4 linked regions of the Homo sapiens genome follow. The protein of the gene in region 1 purifies or fractionates together with the protein of each later gene. This does not show direct contact. Each region holds a gene or a part of one and is shown in the gene's direction. Other genes may lie near its edges.

Evidence for each region.
Region 2: the proteins of TRMT10B (region 1) and TUBA8 purify together in Homo sapiens (affinity purification with mass spectrometry; 3 studies listed by BioGRID and IntAct, with this or other methods). This does not show direct contact.
Region 3: the proteins of TRMT10B (region 1) and MRPS21 purify together in Homo sapiens (affinity purification with mass spectrometry; 3 studies listed by BioGRID and IntAct, with this or other methods). This does not show direct contact.
Region 4: the proteins of TRMT10B (region 1) and WDTC1 purify together in Homo sapiens (affinity purification with mass spectrometry; one large-scale study listed by BioGRID and IntAct). This does not show direct contact.

What each region holds. Positions count from the first base shown.
Region 1 is NC_000009.12:37,763,096-37,768,071, forward strand, and holds part of TRMT10B (tRNA methyltransferase 10 homolog B), read left to right. Parts: exon of another isoform or gene 1-533; coding exon 534-658; coding exon of another isoform or gene 659-763; exon of another isoform or gene 764-770; intron 771-1,510; exon of another isoform or gene 1,511-1,529; intron 1,530-4,976. UniProt on the Homo sapiens protein: S-adenosyl-L-methionine-dependent guanine N(1)-methyltransferase that catalyzes the formation of N(1)-methylguanine at position 9 (m1G9) in tRNAs. Probably not able to catalyze formation of N(1)-methyladenine at position 9 (m1A9) in tRNAs.
Region 2 is NC_000022.11:18,113,069-18,118,044, forward strand, and holds part of TUBA8 (tubulin alpha-8 chain), read left to right. Parts: intron 1-4,976.
Region 3 is NC_000001.11:150,296,121-150,301,096, forward strand, and holds part of MRPS21 (small ribosomal subunit protein bS21m), read left to right. Parts: intron 1-4,976.
Region 4 is NC_000001.11:27,303,392-27,308,367, forward strand, and holds part of WDTC1 (WD and tetratricopeptide repeats protein 1), read left to right. Parts: intron 1-229; coding exon 230-404; intron 405-1,609; coding exon 1,610-1,802; intron 1,803-2,794; coding exon 2,795-2,992; 3' UTR 2,993-4,976. UniProt on the Homo sapiens protein: May function as a substrate receptor for CUL4-DDB1 E3 ubiquitin-protein ligase complex.

The sequences.
Region 1 (4,976 bases):
TGAGCCACTGCACTCCAGAGCCTGGGTGACAGAGTGAGACTCTGTCTCAAAAAAAAAAAAAAAAAAAAAACAAAAAAAAAAATTTAAGGCTGCTTTTCAAATATAAGCTATCTAACTAACGTGTTTATAAGCTCAGAATAGGAGTGATACCAGCAACAGCTAATATTTATTCAGTATTCTGTGTTAGGTTCAGTTCTAAGAATTTTACATGGATTACCTCAATAAAGAGGAGCTGTTATTATCATTCCCATTTTGTAGGTGAAGAGACTGAGGCTTAGAGAAATTAAGTAACATAATTATGCCCAAGATAATGTAGCCAATCAATGAACAAACTGAACTTGGATTTAAACCCTGCTGTGTGCTGCAGAGCCCATACTCCTCACCACTCTGTGTAAATCTTCTAATGAACGAATACCTTACATCAGTATCAAGTTTCTCTTTATATGCAAAATACCCACCTGGCTAAGATTTGTTTCTTATATAATATTCCTCTGGTTTTCCACTTTTATTTCTTTCTGATATTTCTGCTTTAGGCATTTGCCCCCAGCACAGCAAACGTTTCCTGAGAGCTCTAACCAAAGACAAACTTTTGGAAGCCAAACACTCAGGACCAAGACTATGTATCGATTTGAGTATGACCCACTACATGTCAAAGAAGGTAGAACATCCACTAAGCCTGGAATTCCTGCTCGCCATGAGGGAGGCCCAGAAGGGTACAGCTTTCCGAAGAATATGGTCAACTCCAGCTTCTGGGATTCCTTAGTAAACTAGTAAAGTGTTTGATTTTCTATACTGGGTTACTAAGTTCCAAGGTGGCTGTTGTAACGAACCTGGAAGAGAATATATATAGTTTGGTTTAGTTTGCAAATTTTTACCTTGTCTTCTGTTTTAAGCCCAACATCTTTGCCTCTCTGTTCATGATATCCTCAGTCTGGATGGAACCTTTCAGGTTCAGTTTTCCAGACACTAAACCTTTGGGAAGAGGAATATTTGCCTGGTAGCATGTTGTGGGAAGATTACCTGGTGGAAGAACTTTTTGCAATGTGTGTGTTTTTTGTTGTTGTTTTTTTGAGATGGAGTCTTGCTTTTGTCACCTAGGCTGGAGTACAATGGCAAAATCTCAGCTCACTGCAACCTCTGCTTCCTGGGTTCAAGCAATTCTTCTGCCTCAGCCTTCTGAGCAGCTGGGATTACAGGCGTCTGCCACCACGCCTGACAAATTTTTTTTTTTTTTTTTTTTTTTGGAGACAGAGTCTCACTCTGTTGCCGGGGCTGGAGTGCAGTGGTGCAATCTTGGCTCACTGCAAGCTCCACCTCCTGGGTTGACGCCATTCTTGTGCCTCAGCCTCCCACGTAGCTGGGACTACAGGCTCCTGCCACCATGCCCAGCTAAGGTTTTGTATTTTTAGTAGAGATGGGGTTTCACCATGTTAGCCAGGGTGGTCTCGATCTCCTGACCTTGTGAGCTACTGCGCCTGGCACACCCAGCTAATTTTTTTTCTATTTTTAGTAGAGACGGGATTTTGCGATGTTGGCCAGGCTGGTCTCAAACTCCTGTCCTCAGGTGATCCACCTGCCTCAGCCTCCCAAAGTGCTGCGATTACAGGCGTGAGCTACTGTGCCTGGCCTCAATGTATGTGTTTTAATTGATGCTCATTCACCTCATTGATGAAAGAGGGATTCCCACACTAGAGTTCTGGGAATGGCAGAATGCATGACACCTGACACTGGACAGATGAGATTCACAGCAGTTCATGAGTCTCATATACTTACAGCCCAGGGGAGGAAGATACTGTATACCATACAGGGCCACGTGGGGATTGTAATCAAGAACAGAATGAACAGCAAGGGGCTGTGTGAGGTGGGCTTTGTAGTATCCAGGGGTTGAGGTGCCCCCTGGTTACTATAGGAGGATGTGATTGGCTTGTTAGGAAAATTCCATGGGCTGGCAGGGAACCAAAACTCCTTAGGGATAAAGAGATTATGCCTTGGACCCTTGATGAAAAGTATTTAATTATTTATTATTAAGTTTTAAGGTACATGTGCACAACGTGCAGGTTTGTTACATAGGTATACGTGTGCCATGTTGGTGCTGCACCCATTAACTCGTCATTTAGCATTAGGTATATCTCCTAATGCTGTCCTTCCCCCCGTCCCCCGACCCCACAACAGTCCCTGGTGTGTGATGTTCCCCTTCCCGTGTCCATGTGTTCTCATTGTTCAATTCCCACCTATGAGTGAGAACATACGGTGTTTGGTTTTTTGTCCTTGTGATAGTTTGCTGAGAATGATAGTTTCCAGCTTCATCCATGTCCCTACAAAGGACATGAACTCATCATTTTTTATGGCTGCATACTATTCCATGGTATATATGTGCCACATTTTCTTAATCCAATCTATCGTTGGTTGGTTCCATGTCTTTGCTATTGTGAATAGTGCCGGAATAAACATACGTGTGCATGTGTCTTTATAGAAGCATGATTTATAATCCTTTGGGTATATACCCAGTAATGGGATGGCTGGGTCAAATGGTATTTCTGGTTCTAGATCCCTGAGGAATCGCCACACCGACTTCCACAATGGTTGAACTAGTTTCCAGTCCCACCAACAGTGTAAAAGTGTTCCTATTTCTCCACATCCTCTCCAGCACCTGTTGTTTCCTGACTTTTTAATGATTGCCATTCTAACTGGTGTGAGGTGGTATCTCATTGTGGTTTTGATTTGCATTTCTCTGATGGCTAGTGATGATGAGCATTTTTTCATGTGTTTTTTGGCTGCATAAATGTCGTCTTTTGAGAAGTGTCTGTTCATATCCTTTGCCCACTTTTTGATGGGTTTTTTTTTTTTTGTAAATTTGAGTTCATTGTAGATTCTGGATATTAGCCCTTTGTCAGATGAGTAGATTGCAAAAATTTCCTCCCATTCTGTAGGTTGCCTGTTCACTCTGATGGTGGTTTCTTTTGCTGTGCAGAAGCTCTTTAGTTGAATTAGATCCCATTTGTCAATTTTGGCTTTTGTTGCCGTTGCTTTTGGTGTTTTAGACATGAAGTCCTTGCCCATGCCTATGTCCTGAATGGTATTGCCTAGGTTTTCTTCTAGGGTTTTTATGGTTTTAGGTCTAACATTTAAGTCTTTAATCCATCTTGAATTAATTTTTGTATAAGGTGTAAGGAAGGGATCCAGTTTCAGCTTTCTACATATGGCTAGCCAGTTTTCCCAGCACCATTTATTAAATAGGGTATCCTTTCCCCATTGCTTGTTTTTCTCAGGTTTGTCAAAGATTAGATAGTTGTAGATATATGTGGCATTATTTCTGAGGGCTCTGTTCTGTTCCATTGGTCTATATCTGTTTTGGTACCAGTACCATGCTGTTTTGGTTACTGTAGCCTTGTAGTATAGTTTGAAGTCAGGTAGCATGATGCCTCCAGCTTTGTTCTTTTGGCTTAGGATTGACTTGGCAATGCAGGCTCTTCTTTGGTTCCATATGAACTTTAAAGTAGTTTTTTCCAAGTCTGTGAAGAAAGTCATTGGTAGCCTGATGGGGATGGCATTGAATCTATAAATTACCTTGGGCAGTATGGCCATTTTAATGATATTGATTTTCCTACCCATGAGCATGGAATGTTCTTCCATTTGTTTGTATCCTCTTTTATTTCATTGAGCAGTGGTTTGTAGCTCTCCTTGAAGAGGTCCTTCACATCCCTTGTAAGCTGGGTTCCTAGGTATTTTATTCTCTTTGAAGCAACTGTGAATCAGAGTTCACTCATGATTTGGCTGTTTGTCTGTTATTGGTGTATAAGAATGCTTGTGATTTTTGCACATTGATTTTGTATAAAAAGGATTTTTAAAGCTAGGAGACCTTATCTACGGGAGCAGAGTTGGGAGGGGAGCTTACTATTAGGCTATTTGAAGTATTCCCAGTTTTGACAGATGTCAAGGCAGTGCATAATACTGGGCCTTAATTTTAGGCCTTACATCACAGTATGTAAATTGTAAACTCTCTTTTTAGACATCTGTTTTATGTGCTAGTGTTTGCATATTTTTCAGATAAGTTAGGAAAACTGCAGATCTGAGGTTCCTACCTGAAACTTCTAACTCTAGTCCTCTGAAAATGTTAACCAAGAATTCCCTACTATTAGGCTGGGCACAGTGGCTCCTGCATATAATCCCAGCATCTTGGGAGGCCGAGGCAAGAGGATCACTTGAGGCCAGGAGTTCAAGACTAGCCTAGGCAATATAGGAAGACCCTGCCTCTAAAAAATTAAAAATTAGCCAGGTATGGTGGCCTGTACCTGTAGTCCCAGCTACTCAGGAGGCTGAGGTAGGAGGATCACTTGAGCCCAGGAATTTGAGGCTGTAGTGAGCTATGATTGTACCACTGCACTCCAGCCTGGGTAACACAGCCAGACCCTGTCTCCAAAAAAAAAAAAAAAAAAAAAATCCATATTGTTAAATTAAGATAGCAGATTAAATCAAACCCAGAGTCTTTTTCTCCTACCCAACAAATCAAGCCAAATTGTGAAATTGCTTTTATATAAGAGCATTGTCTGTGATTCAGGGTAAAAAGTTAAAACTTCCAACCCTATTGCATCTCCTGAAGTTAGGAAGAAGGTACCAAATTTATATGATGTTCTGTAAAAACATTTATGTATATTAATGAAACCTCTTTAATAACTTAAATAGTATTACATAAGATTTTAGATAAAAGCTAAAATAAGAATTTCATATATTAAACATTTAACAGCAGGGCCAGCAGGAGGGCGAATTCCGTTTTCCACTACCTCACTGTTTCTGGACTTGTATCATTATCTTTTGTCTGTAAGGTGTGATGCCATAAGGTATAATACACGCACACATGTACTCCTAGTACATGGGGTTTTCTGGAGTAGCGTTCAGTGAACTTATTGTAGCCATTTCTTGATAGCTAATTTAGAGTGAGTTGGCATGTTTTTGCCCTGAGTTGTTCTTATTTCTTT
Region 2 (4,976 bases), on another chromosome or scaffold:
TGTAACTAATCCTTAAGTGTATTTTTAAATGCATTTCTCTAGCTGCTAGGCAGATGAGCATTTTTCCTCTGTGAACTTACCCCCAACCCCTTCTCCCCAGCTACCCACTGCACGGTACCACCAATACCCTTTAGCATTTCTGTCCTGGAGCCTAAAGTGACACAGCTGGTAAGAAGCTGCGTAGGGGCTGGAGTTTACATCTGCTGGGCACCAGAGCCTCTGTCCTGAGCCACCTGCCCGTGCTGGGACCGGCAGGCTACTCCCACAGCAGACCATTCCCATCCATTCCCAGTGTTCTAGCACGCAGCTCTCTGGGAACTCAGACTATGACACCTTTTTTGGGAAGTGGTATGGAGAATCCTGGCCAGGTGCCCTAAGCCAAGCCCATGCCAATGATACCAGGGCACAGAGAAGTTTTCTGTGGTTTATGGGGAGGTGGGAACATCTGCAACACGGCTTCTTTAACTCCATTCCGTTAGGACTGGAGAGCACGAAGGAGCCCGTCTCCCTGCAAAAATGGGCAGTTAGAGGGTTCTGGGGGCCAAATGGACACCCTTCTGCCTGCAGCCTTCTGCAGTCTCCCCATGTAGACAGGCATGGCCAAGCTCTGTGGAGTTGATAGGTGTATTCTGACCTCAGAGCACTGTGTGGGCTCCCAGGGGCTGCAGGTCACTGCTGCCTCCTCCTCCCCTCCCATCACAAAAGGCAGGTTTCCCGAGAAGCACTGGGCGCATGCCTCCGAGTGAGGGGCCTTGGCTCACAGGGCAGCGGCTGGGGCAGAGCTGCTGGATTGGTGAGTCCATTGGGAGCCCCCAGCCTTGGGTCAGGCCCATACAGAGCTTGGGGTGGGGGTTAATGCCACTGTTGAATGTGCTTTCTCCTAGTGACCTTCAAAGGGAGATGAAAGTTAAAAATAATTTTGGTGGGGGAAATAGCTGGTGGATAGCGGGCCAGTGATGGGGGTGGGCAGGAGGATGTGGCACTGTCGGGGGGAGGAAGCAGACCAAATGCTCCTTTTCCCTCAAGCCGCAAGGGACGGACAGCACTATCTGTGGCCTTTGTGGTTGGCATTTCCCCTGCAGTGTCTTCCTGTTAGGAGTTCTCTCAGATAATAAGCTGCAGAAGAGAGCAGGAGATGGAGCAGGCACTGTGTGCATCGGATTGAAACTCCTAAGTGTCTCTTGCACCTGCCCCAGTGCCAGCCACAGCCCAGGCCTTCAACGCCCTCCGGCCTCTTATGCTGGAAGTCTCCTTAGCAGATGGCCTCATGGCCAGAGCTGGCCTCCTGTGAGCTCTGTTGCTGCCCTAACTGCAGTGCCTATCATCTGAGCCCCTCTCGCGAGCCACCTTCACTCGCTAAAGTGAATTTAGGCCGACTTTGTTTTTGCTGTGTCTGGCTTGCTATCTATTCTTTGTTATGAGTGATCTCAAATATGCCCTATGATCGAAGAGTTCTGAGCAGAGAGAATTCAGCAGCCCTTCAGGAGCCACATCTGTCCTTACTTTAATTACCCCTCTGTGACACTGTGGGCCTGCTTTTCACTTGCCATCCCTGACCTAGGTCCTAAGATATATGTGATCTATTTTATCCCAGCCTGACAACTAGAGATAATTCGGTGTAATCACATGCTTCCTGACAGCAACTGGGGCATGAGAGCACAGGTGGTCAGGGAGTGTGGGTGGTGCCAGGCTTTCACAGGGCACACACTGTGGTCCACGTCGGCCCCTCTCCCAGATGATATGCCACTTTTACTGTCTTGTGATACTTGGAAATAGTATCACAAGACAGCCTTTTTAAGGCTTCAAAGTCTCCTTTTGCCAAGGATGGTGATTAGCTTATCTTAGTCCTCTGAGAACAAAGCAAAAGGAAATGACTACTATTAAAATAGAATATAAGAATGATGTAAAAAAAAAAGGGCTTCTTGCAGCAAAATTATAAAAGGGCTGCAAAGTTCTAGAATTTCTTTTATTGATGCTCTGCAAAACACAGGCACTGGGCTCATGCCTCCCAGCGAGGGGCCTTGGCTCACAGGGCAGTGGCTCCCCAGGCGGAGTGTTCACAGGTGGCCCAGATGTCTCATTGGCCCTGCCCTTCCTCAGCCTGCGCTCCGGACAGACTGGGCAGTGTGCGGGAACCACCCTGCGTTTTACTGCCTCTTGTTCACACTGCTCCTGCATCCACCTGAACTGCCCCAGATCATCTTGGCCGGCTGCCTTCTTCAGGGTCCCTGCGAATATTCCTCCTTTAGGAAACCAAGCTAGAAGATGTCTCCTTCTCCTTGGAACTCCCTCTGCACTTGACCCGTACACTTCTTAGGCCCTGGCCGCTGTCCTTGTTGGATGGACTGCAGCCCCTCAGGGAAGGTTTTCATTCCAGTCCTCCCTGTGTTAATTGAGCACCTGCTACATTCAAGCACCGGGCTCGGTACTGGGGATTCCTTGAGTGAAACAAAGGTTCCTTGCCCTCACAGAGCTTACGTTCTCTACTAGAAAGGTGCGAAAATGAACAGGCAGCTATAATACGGTGTGATGATTACAATGACAGGAATGAAGGGGATGGGGGAGCACATGGCAGGGCCCTATGCTGGCTTGGGGTTTTGCAGACTTTCCTTAGGAAGTGACAATTAACTGGATACCTGAAGGATGAATGAGAGTTAGCCCAGTAACCTCACAATGCTGTCTCGAATGCAACCACACAAAAAGATTTGCTGTAGAAATGAGTAGGTGCCTTTTGTAGCTATCCCAGCGTGAGGTCTGTGTGAGAAGTGGCATGCTTTTCATGAGGAAGGGACCTCCTTGGTCCCTCCACCTCCCTCCTCTTCACCCCCCAGAAGAAGTTGGGTGGGACAGGCTTCTGCAGCAAACAAGGGACCCCCTCCCCTCACAGGGACCAAGGAGGACAGAACTTGTCTGAGCTCTACAAGCCCAGATTGAAAATAGAACTGAGAGAGACAGGAGCAGTGTGAGTGACAGGCATGTGCTCTGATTGGCTAGACAGAGGAATCTGAAATATGAGTTTGGAGCGGGCACATGACTTAAATATCCTCTGCTGGGTCAGCTTCCCCTTGCCCCCAACCCCAGCTGCACACGTGGGCCCTGAGAAGCGGACTTCTGGTTCTGTCAGAGAAAGATGACCCATTTTCAAAGAGGCCGCCCCATGAGCCATTCGCCATTTCGCTCTGCACAAGAGACATTTCCTGTTTGGAGTTCTGCTATCCGAACTTGGTCTTGCATTGGCGCAGATGTGGGCACACCCCAGGGCCCTGGGAGTTCAGAGCTGCAAGTGAGGCAGGAGGCCATGTGGCCTAAAAGAAAGAAGTCAGGCCCGGGTCAGCAGCCCTGGATTCTGGTCCAGGCTCTTTTGCTGCTGCAGTGCTGTGACATACTGAATTTGTCCCTTTTCCTCTCTGAGCTCAGCAGTTTCATCTGTAAAATAATGGAGAGGGAATCATATTAGGTGATCCATGAGGCTGGCCCAGCTCTGGTATCGTAAATGTTTGTAGCCAATACAACATCCCTGGTTATGATAGAAGGATGCCCTTGACTGGCCCAGCTCTGGTATCCTAAATGTTCGGAGCCGATATAACATCCCTGGTTATGATAGAAGGATGCCTTTTCTTAGACGTGAGGATGCGTCCCACGGGCTTCAGCACTGGGTCTGCTCTGTGGAACTTCCAGGCCGAAGGCTGGGGAGGGTAATGGGGCAGCATGGCTGCAGGAGTCGAGCTCAGTGCCTGAGCCGGGAGCTCGATGCGGGAGCTGTGGGCTGCTCCTCCTCCCTGCTAGGAGCAGGTGCAAGAGGCCTGCAGAGTGCTGGGGCTGGGCACGGACCTCACAGTGCCATGAAGCCTCGTGCAGCTTTGAATTTCACTTGTGATTTCTTCATGGAACTTCAAAGCCCTAGCAATGTAGGCGCGTAGTCAATTATTATTTGAGTAAGTGACTGCGTGCAATGGCCCAGGATAAGGGGGTTCTGGAGAGGGCAGTCCGTGCTCCTATTCTTTCTCTGTCTTCTTTATTATGATTTTTGCTTTTTACTATGAAAAATTTTAAGCCTTCAGAAAAGTAGAGTGATATGCCACCCATATACCTATTATCTAGATTTAAGAAGAAGAATGATTTTTCCATCTGTTATTTGCTGTGTTTGGGAAGGATTTTAAAGTACAGACGTCATGACATTTTACCTCTAAATGCTTCGGATGCAACTCTAAAAAATAAGGATGTTTTCATACTTAACCACATTTTTATGAATACGCTGAACAAAGCAAATCAGTTTATTTGTCCCCCAAATATTTTGATTTGTTCAAACAAGAATTCAGTCAGAGTCCCCATGATGCGTGTGGTGGTGCTTGGTGGTGCCTTAGTTCCTTTGACATGGGACAGCCCCTCCCAGCTCTTCATTTCTCATGAGTTGAAAAGGCTGGGCCAGGCCCGATGGCTCACGCCTGTAATCCCAGCACTTTGGGAGGCTGAGGCAGGTGGATCACGAGGTCAGGAGATCGAGACCATCCTGGCTAACATGGTGAAACCCTGTCTGTACTAAAAGAATACAAAAAATTAGCCGGGTGTGGTGGCGAGCGCCCGTAGTCCCAGCTACCTGGGAGGCTGAGGCAGGAGAATGGTGTGAACCCGGCAGGCGGAGCTTGCAGTGAGCCGAGATCGCACCACTGCACTCCAGTCTGGGCGTCAGAGTGAGACTCCGTCTCAAAAAAAAAAAAAAAAAAAGAAAGTAAATAAAAAAAATTAAGAAAAAAAAAGGCTGGACCAGCTGCCCTGTAGGATGTCTCACCTTCTGGATTGATTTTGTTTTCTCTGATATCACTGAACTTAATTAACCCTCTGATCCCTGTGTTTCCTGTGAAGTGGAAACTGAATCTACAGGGCTCAGTGATGAGGGCTGAGTATTTTTGAGAAGAAGTCCTCACTGGTGGTGTGTGTGTCACATTGCGTCCCATCAGGAGGTCCTCGATGTCGGG
Region 3 (4,976 bases), on another chromosome or scaffold:
TTTGTATTTTTAGTAGAGAGGGTTTCACCACGTTAGCCAAGATGGTCTCAATCTCTTGACCTCGTGATCCACCCGCCTTGGCCTCCCAAAGTGCTGGGATTACAGGCATGAGCCACTGCATCCGGCCCAGCCCTAGTAGTACTTTACCACTGAATTCTCAAGCAAAAAGTTCTTAACCTTCCCTTCTCACCAGTTGTGTGGATTTTGACTTTCTGGTATGACTCACGCGTCATTTTCTTTCCCCAATGTGAAGTAACATTTGGAGAAACAAACGCTTGTTGAGTTGAATTATCAAAGAATTGTAAGGAAGGGGCTCCTGTAGTGCTAGCTGCTCCAGAGGCTGAGGCAAGAGGATTGCTTGAACCCAGGAGTTCAAGACTGTAGTGTGAGTGCACTCTTGTTGTGCCTGTGAATAACCACTCCACTCTAACCTAGGAAGCATAGTGAGACCATGTCTCTTAAAAAAAATGTAGGAAAGATATTGCATGGGCTGCATTAAGGCCTTTAATGTGGTAGCTTTATTTCACAAGTAAGGGAAGCCTTGGAAGATCAGATTATCTTTATTGGGTTATGCAGTTATTGAATGGTGGAGAGGAGCCTAAAGCACATCTTTTTAGTGCAATGTTCTTTAATAATTATTACTAGTCTTACTAGAAATGGAAAGACTTATGGTGGTTCATTTTCCAATTTAGAATCCTTGTCTTGTCATTTCAGCAGGTGTCGCTTTAAAAAAAAAACCAGAATCCTCATCTGATTGGGTTTAAATATTGGTAGGGTTCTTGAGGACTGAGAGGGCAAAGGAAAGGGAACCTAGTTCTTAGCAAAGCAGAGAGTTCTAGGTGTGGAAGGCTGGATGGCAGAAGACCACAGTGAGGAAAAAAATGCTGTCAGCCGGGCGCGGTGGCTCACGCCTGTAATCCCAGCACTTTGGGAGGCCAAGGCGGGCGGATCACGAGGTCAGGACATCGAGACCATCCTGGCTAACACGGTGAAACCCCGTCTCTACTAAAAATACAAAAGATTAGCCGGGCGTGGTGGCACACACCTGTAGTCCCAGCTACTGAGGAGGCTGAGACAGGAGAATCGCTTGAACCCGGGAGGAGGAGGTTGCAGTGAGCCGAGAGCGTGCCACTACACTCCAGCCTGGGCAACAGAGCGAGACTCTGTCTACAAAAAAAAAAAGAAAAAATGCTGTCAGAAGCTGTGTAAATGAGAAGCAGTTGCAGGCTCAGAATGGTTTCTATGTCTTTTAAAAGGATCTGGTCTTAGGGTCAGGCGTGGTGGCTCATGCCTGTAATCCCAGCACTTTGGGAGGTTCAGGCGGGTGGATCACCTGAGGTCAGGAGTTCAATACCAGCCTGGCCAACATAGCGAAACCCTGTCTCTACTAAAAATACAAAATTAGCCATATGTGGTGGCAGGCGCCTGTAATCTCAGCTACTTGGGAGGCTGAGGCAGGAGAATCACTTGAACCTGGGAAATAGAGGCTGCAGTGAGCCAGAATCGTGCCACTGCATTCCAGTCTGGGCCACAGAGTAAGACTCAAAAAAAAAAATCTGGTCTGGGGTCAGCCACATCACTTAATTCTATGTGCATAACAATTATATCCTTGGGCTGAAGCTGTTCCCTCTACATTGTCACCTATGCTGAGAGTAAAGATAAGTACCAGGTTGTAAGGTATCCTGTTTCATTTTTCTCTGTTTCTCCTCATTTCTAACTCTCCTATTTCATACCTTCTGGTGGCATGTCTGAGAAGTATATTATGTCTAATGACCTTTCTCTGGCCCTACTTTGCTATCTTGGAAGTACAAAATGAACTTTTTTTTTTTTGAGACAGAGTTTCACTCTTATTGCCCAAGCTGGAGTGCAATGGTGCCATCTCGGCTCACCGCAACCTCTGCCGCCCATGTTCAAGCGTTTCTCCTGCCTCAGCCTCCTGAGTAGCTGGGATTACAGGCATGCGCCACCAAGCCCAGCTAATTTTGTATTTTTACTAGAGATGGGGTTTCTCCAGGTTAGTCAGGCTGGTCTCTAACTCCCAACCTCACATGATCCACCCGCCTTGGCCTCCCAAAGTGCTGGGATTACAGGCTTGAGCCACTGCACCTGGCCTAAAATGAACGTCTTTATAGGTAACATCCAGACCCTGCAGTGAGTTAGCTAGGGAGATGAATGTTGAATTTGGGAAAAGGCATGTATTACGTGTAACTTCACTCTTTTTTTCTGACTTCTCCCTGTAAATCTTCTTCTGTATGATTTATTTTGGTAGATTTAGATAGGTCTTCTGGCCATGGTTGTTGAGATGTTTGTTATTGAAAGATCAAAGGATAGCTGTTGCTTAATGGTAAAACAAATTTCCAACAGGCTCAGTTTTAGTTCCCTTATTCCTAAAGTATAGATAACACAAAAGCAAGAATTTTGTTTTTAGAAAATTAGCTACTTTGACAAAAAACAACAAAATTTGTGGTACAGTATTATTTATTGAACCACTTTTTTTTTGAGACGGAGTCTCCCTCTGTCGCCCAGGCTGGAGCGCAGTGGCGCAATCTCTGCTCACTGTGACCTCCGCCTCCCGAGTTCAAGCGATTCTCCTGCCTCAGCCTCCCGAGTAGCTGGGACTACAGGCGCATGCCACTACCCCGGCTAATTTTTTGTATTTTTAGTAGAGACGGGGTTTCACCATGTTAGCCAGAATGGTCTCGATCTCCTGACCTCGTGATCTGCCCACCTCAGCCTCCCAAAGTGCTGGGATTACAGGCGTGAGCCACCATGCCCAGCTGAACCACTTCTTACAGTTGTATCAAGAGAGTAGCGGCTGGGTGCAGTGCCTCAGTCTTGTATTCTCAGCAATTTGGGAGGCTAAGAATGGTGGATCACTTGAGGCCAGGAGTTCGAGACTAGCCTGGCCAACATGGCGAAACCCCGTCTTTACTAAAAATACAAAAATTAGCCATGCATGGTGGCACAGGTCTGTAATCCCAGCTACTCCGTAGGCTGAGGCAGAAGAGCCGCTTGAACCTGGGAGGCAGAGACTGCAGTGATGCCCCATATCATATATGGAATGCATCCCCATTTACACCTAAAATTTGAAACAGAATCTGAGAAACAAAATATTTCTAATCTCCTTCCTGATCCTCTTCACTGATACCAGGTTTGCAGAAAATATAAGGCCAGCTCTTATCTTTTGAGAGAAGACTCTTATTTCTTTGTCTAAGATTGTCTATACCCCTTTTTATCTGCCTCTTTTAAAAATCCTTGTCCAGCCACTATATTTTTAATTTAATCAACACTCAGTTTTTGCTTTTCCTGTTTTTTTTTCTGTTTTTTGTTTGTTTGTTTGTTTGTTTGTTTGAGACGATGTCTCGCTCTTGTCCCCCAAGCTGGAGTGCAGTGGCATGATCTCGGCTCACTGCAACCTCCGCCTCCCAGGTTCAAGTGATTCTCCTGCCTCAGCCCCCCGTGTAGCTGGGATTACAGGCACTTGCCACCACGCCTGGCTAGTTTTGGTATTTTTAGTAGAGACGGGGTTTCACCATGTTGGCCAGGCTGGTCTCGAACTCCTGACCTCAGGTGATCCACCCGCCTCTGTCTCCCAAAGTGCTGGGATTACAGGTGTGAGCCACCACACCCAGCCCACATACTACTTTTATGGTTCTCTTTTTGTTGGTGACTGGCATTTTACACAAACCTATTTCCTGGGTCGAAGTGTTAATATTAGAGAGCCGGAGAGTGGTCAGTGTGACACCCTGTGGTTTCAACCCTGGCTGCCTATTAGGATCACCTAGGGAACGAACCATCAAGAAAACAAAACTAATGCCAGGGCCCAATCTGAGATGAATCAGAATCTCCAGGGGTTGCAACCTGGATGGCAGCATTTTAAAAAACATACCATGAGATTTCACCAGGATTGAAAATTATTATAATAGACTTGTAGCCTCCTGGCTGGGCACAGTGACTCATGCCTGTAATCCCAGCACTTTGGGAGGCTGAGGGGGGCGGATCATTTGAGGTTAGGAGTTCAAGACCAGCCTGGCCAACATGGTAAAACCCCGTCTCTACTAAAAATATAAAAATTAGCCGGGTATGATGGTGCATACCTGTAATCCCAGCTATTCGGGAGGCTGAGGCAGGAGAATCGCTTGAACCTGGGAGCTGGAGGTTGCAGTGAGCCGAGATCGCGCCACTGCACTCCAGCCTGGGTGACAAAGTGAGACCCTGTCTCAAAAAAAAAAAGGCTTGTAGCCTCCTTAAGGACAGAAACCTATGCTTTTTCATTTGTGTATCTCTTGGATTTACCAAAGTGTCTGGCACATCCAAAGCTCTCATTAAATGTCTACTTAATGAACATAAATGTTCCTTTATCTTTTTTGTCACTTATTTAATGTTTGTCAAACTTTTTTACTGAAGTGTCGTTAACAGCAGAGGAGAGTGAATGAACTATAGGGGTTCTGCTACTATAAGCAAACATGGAATTTCTTTGAAGCTTCCCTAAATTAAAATGTAAGGTGAACTTCGTATTCGTTGCCATTGCATCTGTTTTATGGGTAACACCCCCACTCCTTCGAGTTAAAATTGGTGCCTCCAGGCAGATGCATCAAATTTGTCCAGAAACTTGTATCCTTTGGCATTCTGTTAATTACCCTGGTTAAGAAGCACAGTATTACCTTTTCTTCAGGGATTAAAACACCAAAGTAGGAGTAGGATTTGGAAAAAAGCAATTTACATTGCTTAAAAAGAAAAGAATTATATTCTTTTCTTTTTAAGAAAGAAGAGGAGTGGTTAGAAAAATAAATTTGGCCAGGCGCGGTGGCTCACCCCTGTAAGCTCAGCACTTTGGGAGGCCGAGGCGGGTGGATCATCTGAGGTCAGGAGTTCAAGACCAGCCTGGCCAACATGATGAAACCCTGTCTCTACTAAAAAAAATACAAAAATTGGCCGGGCGCGGTGGCTCATGCCTGTAATCCCAGCACTTTGGG
Region 4 (4,976 bases), on another chromosome or scaffold:
CCTGAACCAGGGCCCTCCTGGCATCAAAGGTCTCCTCTTGAACATCCTCAGGGGCTAGATCCAAAGATGCATCTTCCTCACAACCTTTCCCCAGTTTTCCAGGATAAGGGTGGAGGCAGGTAGCTCTATGTTGTCAGACTTTGGACTGAAAACAGAGCCATAGGTGGGGGAAAATAGGGAAGGAGAGAAAGGAACAAGGCGCTTACCTTTTCTGGATCTCTGCCCCCAGAGGAGAAGAAGGGACCTGGTGGCGGCGCCCCAGTCCGCCTCCGCAGCACGAGCCGCAAGGACTCCATCTCAGAGGATGAAATGGTGCTGCGGGAGCGAAGCTACGACTATCAGTTCCGCTACTGCGGCCACTGCAACACCACCACGGATATCAAAGAGGCCAATTTCTTTGGCAGGTCCGAGGCCCTGAAGAGGAGGGTGCAGCCCAGTTGGCAGCGGGAGGTTGAGTGGGGAGTGTTGGGGCATAATGGTTTCAGAGAAGAATCTCAAATCCCTGCTCTGCCTCTGTACCCTTGGGCAAATGGCTTCACCTTTGTCAGCCTCTAAAGTTTTTTAATCTATGAAATGACCAACCTGCCATGCCCATTTATGAGGCCATAACAAGGACTAATAAGATAACCCAAGTAGAGCCTCCAGCGCAGTGCCTGAACTACTCCTTCATCCCCCACCTCCTTCTCCCTCTGTCTGCATGTGCCAGAGCTTGGTTTCTTTATCTGCATTCAAGGAACCTCCCTCTGCTTGAGAGTATGAGGCAGCAGCCCTCCAAGGCTGGGAATCTTGGCACATCTGTTTTGTGCTCAAAACTGTGCCCTGTGTACTAAGGGACAAACTCTGTGTTTCAGACACCATCATCCCCACCCCTCATTTGTAGATGTACTTTCTTTGGGTAGGTGAGACACATGAACATGAATCAAGAATCTCTCCATAGGCCAGGCACAGTGGCTCATGCCCGTAATCCCAGCACTTGGGGAGGCTGAAGCAGGAGGATCGCTTGAGCCCAGGAGTTTGAGACCAGCCTGGACAGCATAGACCCCCATCTCTACAAAAAATGTTTTAAATTATCTGGGTGTGGTGACGTGCACCTGTAGTCCCAGCTATTCAGGAGGTTGACATTGGAGGACCAGTTAAGGCCACAGTGAGCCATGATCATGCCACTGTACTCCAGCTTGGGTGACAGAATGAGACCCTGTCTCTAAGAAAAAAAAAGAATCCATCAAGATGCCCTCTAAATGTCAGTGGTGTGTGAGGGGCAGGGGGAGTCTGGATGCCAGAAGCCTGGAACTGCTCAGGGGAGGCTTAAAACAGGGTATTTTGGAGACCCGAGAGATGATGTAAGATGATCCTGGCCCAAGGAGGTAATAATGAACTATAGGGGAGACTGTCTTGGAGAAATCCAGGTAGTCGCTGGCCCTAGGTTTAAGAGAACAGTGACCAGGGCTATATACCTGGAGGAATTCTGGGTCAAGTGCACACCCCAGCGTGTGGGGGACTGAGTGGCTGCAGACTTCCTTGCTCCCCCTTTACCTAGGCCATGCAGCCTCTACTTGAGGCTGTAGGGCAGTACCCCACCTGACCTCCCTGCCCTTTGCCCCCCCGCCAGCAACGCTCAGTATATCGTCAGTGGCTCTGACGATGGCTCCTTCTTCATCTGGGAAAAGGAGACCACCAACCTGGTCCGTGTGCTCCAAGGGGATGAGTCCATTGTCAACTGCCTGCAGCCACACCCCAGCTACTGCTTCCTGGCCACCAGTGGCATCGATCCTGTTGTGCGGCTCTGGAACCCCCGACCAGAGGTGAGGGTGCAGAGCCAAGCAGAGAGGAGGGCAGGGACTCTGTGGAAGGCTCCAGTGGAGCCTGCTAGCGCAGGGAAGAGAAATGAGCCACCCAGAGGCTAGAAGCTGCTAAGTAAGCCTTACCCCGGGGCCCAAGGCTGTGTTCTCAGATTCCAGAAGCTCCAAATGCAGCAGCAATTCTCCAGAAGCTGTGCAGAGGCCCTGGTCACAAGGGAACTATGCAGGCTTTGGCATCTGGTAGGCCTAAGTTTGAATCCAGTCTCCTCACTCGCTGCCTGAGAGACTTCACCATCTCTGACCCAGGCTTTTAATCATCTGTACATTGGGAATGGGAATGACAGCACCACCTTGAAAGGTTGTGGTGAGAAGTAAAGAAGAGATGCCTGTGAAGTGTCCAGCCCACAAGGACACTTAGGACAGTGGAGTCCCCTCCACTCCCAGGGTGGGTAGCCAGGGAAGCTGGCTTGGTGCCTCCCCTTCCCCTCTGCCCTACTGCTTCCCTCTTCCCAGCTGGCAAAACAAAAGTCAAGTGGTATGTCTGATTCCCAAGATAATTTGCTGTGACTTTTAAAGAGAGGACCCCTATAGGCTTCCCCATTGAGAGGAGAGGAGAAAGAAAGATGAAGCAAGAGTTGTGGCAACAAAACAGAATGGGGTGGGGAAGTTGTATCTGCCCCTTGTCCCAGGTATCCCAGTATGTGTGTCCAACATATCCTGGTGTGTACTGTCCCCCACGTATATCCCAGCATGTTATGACCTGCCTGTATATCCTGAGGTGGCGTATCTCCCATATATATTCCAGCGTGAGCACCCCCAACAATATGTAGCCAAGGTTGTGTGTTCCCCTCCACCATATACACCTCCTGGCATGTATGTGTACCTCCCCCTATAGATAGTTTAGTCTGTGTATTTCCCTCCCCCTCCCCTATACGTGTACCCTGGTGCCTCTCCCTCCCTGAGCCCCACGTGTGTCACCCCTTTCTCCACCACAGAGTGAAGACCTCACAGGCCGAGTCGTGGAAGATATGGAGGGTGCTTCACAGGCCAACCAGCGGCGCATGAATGCAGACCCGTTGGAGGTGATGCTGCTCAACATGGGCTACCGGATCACGGGCCTGAGCAGTGGGGGTGCCGGGGCCTCTGATGATGAGGACAGCTCTGAGGGCCAGGTGCAGTGCCGGCCCAGCTAGACCCTCCAGCCCTGGTCCCCAGCCCCTGCTACTGGCTGGACCCTCTGCCCTGGGCAGGAGGTCAGGGGATTCTGTTTTGGTTTGTCTTCCCCACCACCCTTTTTTTTCATTTCCCCTGTTTTGTTTGTTAGTTTGGCGTTAGGGGTGGAGGTTGCTACAACTTGCTGGCTTTCGGACTCTGGGCTGATTGTCCCCTGACTATCCCCAGCCCTGAAAAAAAGAGCAGGAGGGGACACCCCTCCATATGCCCCCCCCCATCTCCTGCTTTCATGTCCCTGGAGGGCTCTGGCCTGCCTCAAAACCCCTTCTGCCTCAGGTGGGGAGGAACAAGCTGAACTGTCTTCAGGGACTGTCCTGCCCTTTAGCTGGCAGCAGCAGGAGGAGTGGGATTCCCAATTGGTAAGGGCTCGCCTTGGCCTGTTGCCACTCTTGCTCCCTAGCCTGCAAGGCTAGCTCCCCTGTGGTCTTCAGGAAAGGTTTTGAAAAAGGATGGGTCCCACCCTCCCTCCAGAGCCACCAGTGTTAGAGCGGAGCCCAAAGGAAGGATGGGAGCCCTGGAGTGGGCAAGACCAGGCCACCTGCTGAGGTCGCTGTGGAGCACCCTCGCTCCTCTCCTGGCTACTAGCTCTGGCCCTGCACCTACTCTCACTGGCCACCTCTGGAGGCTCTGCCTTTCCCAAGGGCCCTGGCAGAGGGTGGGGCACTGCACCTTACCCCACCCATCCATGCCAGCACTTCTGCACTACGGCCATTCTCCTCTTGGGCGCTCCTCAGCCTCACTGTGACCTTTCTGCCAGAGCTCCCAGCCAGGCCTACTCTGCTGAGGTGGCGCTTCCTGCTAAGGGCCCTTCTCTGCCCTTTCTGCCCTCCTTCCCATCCCACATGCTGAGCCGCCACAAAGACCAAAGAAGTGATGGCTTTTCTCTGTCCCCTGCTGCTCTGAGGGGAGAGGGGTGGGTCTCCTGAGCCACTCAGATGGGAAAGTCCCTTACTCGGCCCCTCCCTCCCCAGCAGCCCCAAGCTTTACACTGGATGCAGCGATCAACCCACCACTCACCAGGCCTCTCCTCCCCTCTGCCCCCGGCTCTTAGCTCCAGCTGCTCCAGGTAGTTGGTTCATCCTTCCCCCTCTCTCCCTCCCTGCTTCCCCTTCAGTGCTTACTTGGCTCCAGCCCTCCAGCTGCAGCCCCTGGGGAAAAGCAGCCTCCCTTCTCCTCTCCCTCCACTCCCTCGCTCCCTCCCTCAGCCCCTGTCTCTGCCAGGTGCCTCCTCTCAGTCAGGCTTCAGAGCAGCCCTGGAGACAGGAGGGCCATGTTAAAAGCTTTTTCACAGTTTTAAGAAGACAAGTGGAGGGTGAGGATAGTGGTGGGGGGTCTGGCACCATCTCATTGCTTTAATCCCAGCAACACAGGTGGCAGCTTCTCCCCCTTCCTTCCCACCCCAGTCCCTCTTCCCACCCCTCTCTTCTAGCTTGGTAATGAAGTATATTTATTGGTGAAGGAAACAGCTGCTGCTGCTTCTCCTGCTGCTGGGACCTGCTCCCCTGTCTCTTCTCCGTGACCTTTCTCTAGCCAGGGAGAAGGGAGAGCAGGAGTATTGGGGCTGGGCCCTGGGGCCCAAGGACCAGCTGGGTCCCCTTTGCTTTCTTGTGTTCCAGCCACCTGCCATTTCCTCCCTGCCTCCCACCCTCCCTCCCTGCCCCCTGTCCTGCTTCCCACCCCCTGCCTGCCCAGCCTGGGCCCTGCAGTGTGGAGAGACACATAAGCCTTACTGTCCTCTGGGGGCAGGAGCCGAGCCTTTTTGTTGCTCCGCTCCCAGGAGAGTGAGGGTGACGCAATTGATTAAAACCATTTTGTTCTAGGTGTGGCTGGTGGCATTTGTGGGGTGCAGATGGGTCTTGGAACCAAAGTGAGGGCACCTGGTCCCTCACCTCTGTAGCTCTATGACTTAGTAACCACACCTCTACTGGACAGAATGAGGCCTGC